2 separate regions of the Homo sapiens genome follow, and region 1 is reported to be linked to region 2. Evidence: microRNA targets listed by miRTarBase, many of them from high-throughput screens and not tested one by one. Region 2 holds a microRNA gene; the other region holds the end of a gene's coding sequence.

Evidence for each region. The annotated mature microRNA hsa-miR-6814-3p reads ACUCGCAUCCUUCCCUUGGCAG and lies in region 2 at 2,668-2,689, shown strand. An mRNA with a match to its seed (bases 2 to 7 or 8) in the 3' UTR can be bound and repressed. Matches are read on the target gene's strand: a 7mer-m8 pairs with bases 2 to 8, a 7mer-A1 pairs with bases 2 to 7 and ends in A, and an 8mer does both.
Region 1: miRTarBase lists DPF3 as a target of hsa-miR-6814-3p. The part of its 3' UTR that is shown has no 7-base or 8-base seed match.

The regions. Positions count from the first base shown.
Region 1 is chr14:72,615,470-72,619,854 of GRCh38, forward strand. DPF3 (double PHD fingers 3) reads right to left here. Exons shown (of 11, transcript NM_001280542.3): 11 at 1-3,898. The coding sequence ends at 3,828. It also overlaps a transcript of RGS6 not described here. Among named protein-coding and RNA genes, the nearest start is that of MIR7843, 100 kb to the left of the region's middle. RefSeq lists an enhancer at 3,207-4,385.
Region 2 is chr21:41,745,076-41,749,460 of GRCh38, reverse strand. MIR6814 (microRNA 6814) reads left to right here and starts at 2,620; the gene lies at 2,620-2,689. RIPK4 (receptor interacting serine/threonine kinase 4) reads left to right here. Exons shown (of 8, transcript NM_020639.3): 4 at 258-307; 5 at 2,690-2,848; 6 at 3,599-3,702.

The DNA.
Region 1 (4,385 bases), not on the chromosome of region 2:
CGAATACAAAAATGCACCAGGAGTGTGCAACCCTCCAGGGTATCATGAAACCATCACTGTGAAACCCAAACCCTCCCCCAACTTCAAAACCTGTTCTCTTCCCCAGTTCTGGAGGAATCTGGCCTCCTTCCCTCCCTTCCACCCACCCACAGGCTCTTCCCTGGTTCCAGTCGGCTGGGCTCAGCCTGCCCAGGCTTCCGGCTTCCTACCTCGCCCTGGGGCAGGGACAGGAGCAGGGGAGCCTTGGGACCTGCTGGCTCCTGCTTCAGGGGCGATGAGTCAGTGAGGGGTTCCAAAGGAAAGCCAGAATGTCAATCTCCTAGCAGGAGCCCTGTTTCTATTTCCACATAATGTTGCCTGCACTGGATTTGCTACAGATCCAAAAAGCAGGGTTTCAAAAATGCCTACAGGAAACAGGATTTCCACTTCCGGTTGGGTCTGGCAGCCTCACCTCTCTGGTTTGCTGGAGCCACAGTACAGAGGGGTGAAGCCCAGCAAAGTTCTCCTGGCTGTTCCCAGCATTTGAGCCGGAAGACAACCACATCATTATCTCCATTTGGTGGCCTCTGCAGAAAATGACAATAGCTACCATGGAGTGGGGACCATCATCATGCCAGACCCGGGCCAGGATCTTTACCAATGTCACCTTGAATACCTGCAAAGACCATGCTGGATAGGCCATGTTTCCCCACCTTACAGACATGTGAAATGAGGCTCAGAGAGTTGAAGTCATTGGCCCAAGGTCAGTCAGCTAGAAAGTGGCAGTGTTGGTCGGAAAGTGAGCGTTACCCATGAACTGAAACAAATCATAGCCCTCTCTAAAAGTCACCTTTCCATTCTCAACTGCATTAATCTTATAGAAGGAGTATCCTGAGTACCTTCATTTTAAAGTCCCCAACCCCATGTACATCCCTCACCTCCACCCCACAGCCCATGCAAGTCATGATTTCCTTGGTCGCAGCCCAGCCCTGGCAATATAAACTCCCTTTGGTCACAAGGGAGATTTGAAGAAGACGTCTAACATTGGCTAATGCACACAAGAAGGCGGACATGGAAAACATCCGGAGTTCTTCCCAGACAAGCATGGCTCTGCAGTGCTTGTTTATGTAACATGATGCTTAAGAGTCCCAGTGTCACTCTGGAATAGGCAGGGCAAGTGTTACTATCTCCACTTTCCAGGTGGGCAATTGAGGTTCAGGGAGGTTAGGTGACTTGCCCAGTGTCACACAGCTACTCCATGGCAGAGGCAACACAAAAACTCTGATCCTTCACATGCATCCTATGATTCTATCTCATTCTCTGGGGTTCAAAAAAAAGAGACCAATTTAAAGTTTACCAACCCCGTCCTCTTTTGAACACAGAGGTGATAAATGTGACCACGGAGACTTTTGTCTGCTTGTAGTACCCTGACAGTGCCAGCCCACAAGCTGGCTTGCTATCCCCGCTTTCCAGATGGGGAAACTGAGGCCTCCAAAGATGAAGAATGGGTTGGGCCCATTCTTCAGGGAGTAATGAAGCTGAGAGGGGAACTCCGGGGCCATCCTAACGTCACTCCAGAGCCCTGACCCTCACCAGTGCAGGCAAGTTCCAGTGCCCTGCCTTGGCCTGGGAGACCCAGCTGAGGCTCAGCTTGTGTAGGCAGAGCAGACATGGGGCTGAGATCGAACAGGGCTGCCCTATCACCTGCACTTCTGTGGAAAACAAATTTGCACATACTCTGAAGAGGACGTGTGAAGTTGTAGAGCCACAGTTTGGGGTTTCGGACTTGCTTTTTAAACTTTTAAGCTATTGTGGCACTTGGGAACATTTGGGGAACTTTTTTTTCTAAATTTAAATTAAAATGACGCTCAAAACCAATTATTAGCCTTTGGAGACAGCCTGCTTTGGGTTTTGTGGGAAGAGAGAGAGCTGGAGTAGTCAGGAGAAAAAATGTGCCCCTCTGATGGAATGTCACCCTCCCTATCCCTCCCTGGGCCTTCAGGATTCAGACAAGCTCACCGACCAGCAGGCGGAAGGAAATTACTTATGAGGAAGATGAAAATTCCATCCGGTCGGGGGCCCTTTAAATGAGACCATTATGTATGTGTGTGATTCCCTCTGAGGCCACAGGCCCCTGCAGGAGAGTGACCCCCATCGCTTGCCACAGGTCACTCTGCTGAAGCGTGGGGGAGACCCACACTGCTTGGTTTCATGCCAGGCTGCCCTGGGTCCACTGGCCAAGAGCAATTAGCCTAGAGAGGAGCACTCCTGCCGAGGGACAGCACAAATACTGCGGCCGGGCAGAGGTGGCCCAACTAGCCCGAGTCTCCGGGAGCGTCCTCAGGAGCTGAAGAACTAAAAATAACCTGGGCCTTTGTTGTGAGCAGCCAGACCACAGAGATGGAGCTGATTTCAGAGAAGCCAAGCATGCGCGAGGGTTCCGCTCACCGAGACCTGCCCTTTGGGCAAATGATTTTTCCAGAAATATGTCAGTTATTGTGCTGCTGCTGCGATTCAAAGTCAGCCCAATCCGCTCCAGCCCTCGGGGCTATCTTCCAACACACAGAGTTCTCGGAAGCTCAGCCTCCCCACCTCTTTCTTCTAGACACATTTTTTTTTGAAAACAAGAGTCCTGCATGTTTGGGGAGCTTAGGAGACAAGAGCAGCCCCCGCACTGAGAGTTCTAAAATGTGGCCACCCTGGTCGTGAATAATGACCATGTCACCCTAATTATTTGTTTAGATAACAATCTTCTCTCCCCCATCCTAAAATTCCCAGTCAGGTCTCAGTAGACAATAGCGAACAAACACTACGTGGAAGGAAGAAATTACTTGGAAAAAGGAATTCAGAGCGTCGCATCAATACTGAAGGTTTCTCAAAGCTGCAGCCCCCTGTATCCAGCATTCGGACACATGATTGGGCAGCCTTCGCTCCCCTTCCTGGTTCTTCAGTCCCACCAGGAGAAGCTGAACCAGGTCTCCAGAACCAGGTGGGCTGAGAGGCAGAGGCTTGACCGTCTTCCTCTGTCCATAGGCCATGACTGGTCTCACCTAAAGGATGCCCCAGCTCTGAAGGTCAAGGAACCAGCCTGGCCTCTTGCAAAGTCTCTCCCGATGGATAACAAGTACTGACTGGCTATGGCGGGGCCTTGGCACCATTTCCACAATGTTTCCTCCCATGTCTCTGCGCGTCTCCCTCCCTCCCCGCCCCCATCTAGTAACTTTAAGCAGTGGCTCAAGACCAGGCTGGCTGTGGATGCCACTGCTGGGGTTCTAGAAGGCAACTCTTTGTCTCCACAGACACCAAGGAACAAGAAAGGGTTTCAAGACCCCAAGTCTAGAAGTTTCCAGTGAGGCTTGCCATAAACGACAACTTCTCCACAGCCCTTTGTTCCTCAGGTGAGAATTTCAGGATGCAGACCCTAAGCTGGGGGCACGGGGGCTGTGCCAAGATTTCTTGGAACACAATAGATAAAAAAACACCACACTACACACAAGTAATGGATGAGTGGTCAGGAAATGGCTTCCCTTAAAATGGGAACCAATGAGAGGGCCTCGGTGCTAGGGTAAAAGTGAGAGGGGTTCCACAGGGCTGGGGCCGGAGGTGTTCTCCCAAAGTGCAACTTCCTTCCGGTAGAGACAAGGAGGTGCTGGCTGAAGTTCCGTACATATCGGGGGAGGTCAGGAGATGCCTCACCCTCTTCGTTCCATGTGTCCCTGCCCCTCTGGGACTATTTCTTTTCCTTGCAGTTGGTCTGGCTGGATATGTGGGAGGAGGGCGCGTTCTGGTTTGAACTGGGCTCTGCTTTAGGATCTCCAGCAGCGAGTCACATTCTGTGACCTGGGGCCCTAGGCCTGGCAGCCAAAGGCTGAGGCTTTCTCTTTGAGCAGTTCCCAGCATAAGTGGCAGCTCCAGCTTCCTGCAAGAAATGAGACGGCTTTAGTAGCAGCCCCTCTGCTAACTCTGGAGCCCCACCCCACTGGCCCTAACTTCTTGTAAATCCTGTTTCCTTTGAACTTTGGCAATGCAGAAACCAAGTCCCAGGCCTGAAAACGTGCCAGAGTCTGTGGCTCAGCAGAAAGCAGGTGCTCAGAGGAGATGGGCTCAACTCTTATCAAGACCCTCACTACTAGCGTCATGCCTCCAAACTAGTGTCGCCGGGCCTGCGCCAGTTCTCCTGGAAGCTCACACCTCCCGGTCATCTCCACTGCATGTCTGGGAAAAACTTCCTTGGCCCTCAAGTTGAAATTTCAGCTGCTTGGACTGTGCCTCAGTTTCCTCATCTGTAAAATGGCAGTCGTCGTACCTACCTTGTGGGGTTGTGATGATTAAATGAGACAAGACATGAACATGTAAACCCATTAGCATAAGGCCTGTACCATAGTGAGAGCTCAGTAAGTGCTAGT
Region 2 (4,385 bases):
GAAGTCCCTCAAGCTGCCTGAAGATTGTAGCCCAGTTGGCGAAGTTACTTGAGTCTGTCTGACATCTGAGCTATCAACATGCTGGGCTTCACTATAGAGAATTTTCTCTTTTTAAAAACAGGAGAAATATCTCGGTGTCATGGCTCTGTCTTTGGAAGGCTTCAGAACAGGTGTCTTCACGCCTGTTGCTGTGCATGAGTGCATTTGGCTTTGAGTCTCTGGCTGTCAGATGCTAACGTGCCTGGTTTCTCTTCCAGCTTTGCGATCGTCATCTGGGGCGTGCTCACACAGAAGAAGCCGTTTGCAGGTGAGTGGACCTGTCTTTGAGGTGTAATGTGCTTGTCTTTCCTGGAATAATGGGGGGACACCTTGTTGTCCTTTCTCTATCCTAAAACAGAGCCTGTGATCCACGCTGCCATAGGTGCTGCTCTGTGGTGTAATTTGCATGCAGGAAAAGACACAGATCTGAAGGGGCCTGTTCAATGGAATGTTTTTAGGTGCCAGCTAGTTTTTTTGTGGTAGTAAAATATATATAACATAAAATTGGTCATGTTAGCCATTTAAAGTGTATAATTCAGTGACATTAACTACACTGGCAGTGTTGAACAAGCGTTACCACTGTCTAATTCCAGAACATTCTCATCATGCTAGAAGGCAAAGCCCATGGCCATTCTGCAGTCCCTCGCCCTTCCTCCTGCTCAAGCCCCAGCAACCACTCACCTGCTTTCTGTCTCCAGGGGTTTGCCTGTGCTGGTATTTCCAGCTAATTCTTTTTTGTTTACTTTTTAAAAAAATAGTCATAAAATACACAGAACAAAACTTAGCATGTCAGCCGTGTGAAGCATACAGTTCAGGAGCATTACATGTACCCGCGTGCTTGCGCAGCCAACCTCCAGAGCTGCTCAGTGCCATGGAGTTGCTTGCAGGAGTGGCACCCCTGCCCAGCTTGAGAGCTGTGGTGTTTGCTTCCCCAGCCAGGCAGCCACCATTCCGAACACCATCCTCAAAGTTGTCACACCTTGACTTACTTATCATAAAAATCCAGGACTTTTTAGCTTTGTTGGACAGATTCCCTTTTCCTCTAAAGACATTTCTGGGCTACTCATGATATTTTGTGGTGTGACCGAAAATGTCTAAAAATGAAGATGAGAGTCAAGGCCTAGCCCCTTGTTAGTCGGGGCTCAGACTAGGAGCCGATGTATGGGAAAGTGCTGGGGTGAGAAGAGATCTTCCAGCATCGCAAGATCAAGTATCTTGGCAGCTTTAAAAGAATGTCAGTAGAAAGCACAGAACGCGTCCTGCCAGGCCTCTGCTGGCCGGTGTCCGTCTGTGTTGTCTGACCGCCTGTCGCCTTTCTTGCCTTCTGTACGTTCTCCCGCACAGTGGCCTACAGCCCGAAGGCTTGTGAAATGAGGCAGTGTCTGATAGATGTGACACCCGAAGCTAGGCGCAGGGGACAGGTCAAGGCTCAAGCCCTTGTGCTTTATTGCTGAATATGCCTAGTGTTCCCTTATTGGAACGCTAATCATATGGGAATTATTCGTGTCCTACTGTTCAAGGTCATCGCCAAGGTCTGATTTTTCAAATTCAAAAAATTGCAACCTCAGGCAAAAATGGGTAGGAGGGGGTTCAAGGTGCAGGAGAACAAGGCCTCTCCCCAGCTTTTCCAGTCTGTGCTTGGCAGCAGGAAACATTCCGGGCGTTTACTTCAGTTTGCTTCCATTTTATTTAGAGGAGCTGTTGGTTTTGAAGTCTGAATAATCATGGAAATAGCCTGCTAAACACTTAACGATATTTATTGCACAAGATTTAATGGGAAAGTGGAGCAAAACATTGTATGGAATCCTGGCAGCCGTGGGTGATTCTCGGCTGATTTTCCACACCTGCTGAGGCACATGGCCTCTCCAAAGAGCTGCCATTCCATGCGTGGGTGTGTTTGGATCTGGAGGGCAGAGAGGGCTGTTGGGAACAAGAACCTTGAGGGTTCCAGGCTAAGCAGAAAAAAGAACTTGGCCCACTGGATGTCACCCTGGGCCCTTCCCAGTCAGGGTAGAAGTTGTGGCAATAATAATAATAAGCTAGAGCCCATGCATGCTAGTGAAGGCAGTTGGAAAGGACAGGTGCGGCCCCACATGGTGAATTGAGGGGAAAGAGCCCTTCCACACATCCCAGCCCTGGTGCACCGGCAGGGGAGGCCAGCTGGGGACCTGAGCTTGGGATTGGAGTTGGAACTGAGGAAGACTTCTTCGCCATTGTAGAGAGAGTTGGGTCTCTGTGGATGTAGGACGCTGTGGCTCCTCCATGGTGCGTGAGCCTCATTCCCTTTGCTGGCTTGGGCTGTTGATGGAATGAGCCTCATAAGATATTGTTCTCCTTTGAACCTCATCTTCCTTTGGATGGGATGCCTAGAAAGATCTGCTCTGTGACCAAACACACTGACTCCTTCTGGTAGATCAGAACCCAGGGAAAGAGGTCGATTTCAAAACCAGGAAACTAGAGAGCATGGCGCACCATGAGGGTGAGGGTTACAGGAAGCTCTGCCTTTGAAACGGAGTGGGGGAGCCGTCTCCCTGGGGTGGTGTGGGGATGGCCCCATTGTGGCCCCCGGCGAGTGTGTCGTTTCCTCCCAAGGGTGAGATGCTGCCACCCAGCCCTGCAGAGCCCCTGACTCGCATCCTTCCCTTGGCAGATGAGAAGAACATCCTGCACATCATGGTGAAGGTGGTGAAGGGCCACCGCCCCGAGCTGCCGCCCGTGTGCAGAGCCCGGCCGCGCGCCTGCAGCCACCTGATACGCCTCATGCAGCGGTGCTGGCAGGGGGATCCGCGAGTTAGGCCCACCTTCCAAGGTGAGCACCCCGGGGTCTCCCCGCCACATTCTGTGGGTGTCACAGGAGACAGAGGTGACAGACAGGACAGGGTGAGGGACCAGGCCTGGGTGAGAAACAAGGCGTGTAACAGGTGGGCCGAAATGAGCCCTGCACAGATAGGTTGGACCCAGCACCTGCCTGCGGCCTCTGGTACTCACGGCTCGGCCACGGCAGCTGGAACTGAGTTGCCTCCAACCATCCGCCCCCTGCTCCCCACCAGGGTTGGGCTTGCCACCCAGAGGAGTCTGTATGGGAGCCTGAAGTTCAGGTGCAGCCATGCTCTTCCCGGGGACTTACCTGGCCGGTGGCCGGCGGCGTCGCCCTTCTCTTGAGGAGTTGACTTCCTGGGACAGATGTGTCTCTGGCATAGGAAAGTCACCCTGATGAGATGGAAACTGCTGCATTTAAAGCTTACGGCAGGAAACGGGCTGAATGGGGAGCTCATCCGCCAGGTGCTGGCAGCTCTGCTCCCTGTGACTGGCAGGTGGCGCTCCCCCGGGGAAGGCTTCCGCCTTGAGTCTGGTGAGGCCTTCAAATGATTACCGATGGGGGGGCCTGGGTTTGGCCAGCAAATTGTCCATGTAGGGCCCCTGGGCTTGCCTGGTGAGCTCAGGCTGGGCCGAGGCGTGTGAGAAATCCCCCAGCTCGTGGGGGCCCTGCGTTTATATGGAACGCGTGTGTACGCAGAAGTCATCATCCGAGTGACATGTCCCCTTTCTTCCCCACAAGAAATTACTTCTGAAACCGAGGACCTGTGTGAAAAGCCTGATGACGAAGTGAAAGAAACTGCTCATGATCTGGACGTGAAAAGCCCCCCGGAGCCCAGGAGCGAGGTAACGAGTCCTTCCCACAGGGGTCTTTTGTCTCCTCGGCTTCCAGGCAGGAGTTTCCAAACCACTCCTCTTTGCAGAGTCCCCCGCCGCCCGGACCACTCTCCCTCTCTTCTGAGCCCATCCCGCACCCAACTCCATTAGAAGTGTAGGTCCCATGGGGGCTCAGGTCCACCTGCCCGACTGCATCCCCGCCCCACCTCCTGTCTGATTCTGCGTGAGTGGCGGAAGGGCTTCCCTGACACTAAATAGCCACTCATTGGATGTGTGTGGACCACGGGGATCAGAAGGCCCAGCCCCGGCCGGGGAGGGAGAGCTGGTGTCTGAGTGTCTTTGCACCCCTGGCTCGGGGATCCAGTTCCTTTATAGCTGCCCATAAATGGTCTGCACTCTGATGAGTGCCACCCAGGTGATTTCAGATGTGATAAGAAGCTCCAAGTAGCAGGGCTGGCTAAATGCCTTTTCGGGTGATGAGGCTGGAGCAGACCTGTGAGGCCCAGCTGATAAGTGAGCTTTATAACGTGTTATCTGGTGTTGGGCGATTAATCCCAGGCTGTTGGTGTGAGCTCAGGAGATCAGGAAATATGTATATCAGGAATATGCGCCCACTGCCTCAACATAAAGTGCATGTGTGCCAGTGAGCCCGGGAGCAAAGGTGCCCGGGGGTTGCTAGTACAGAGGCAGAC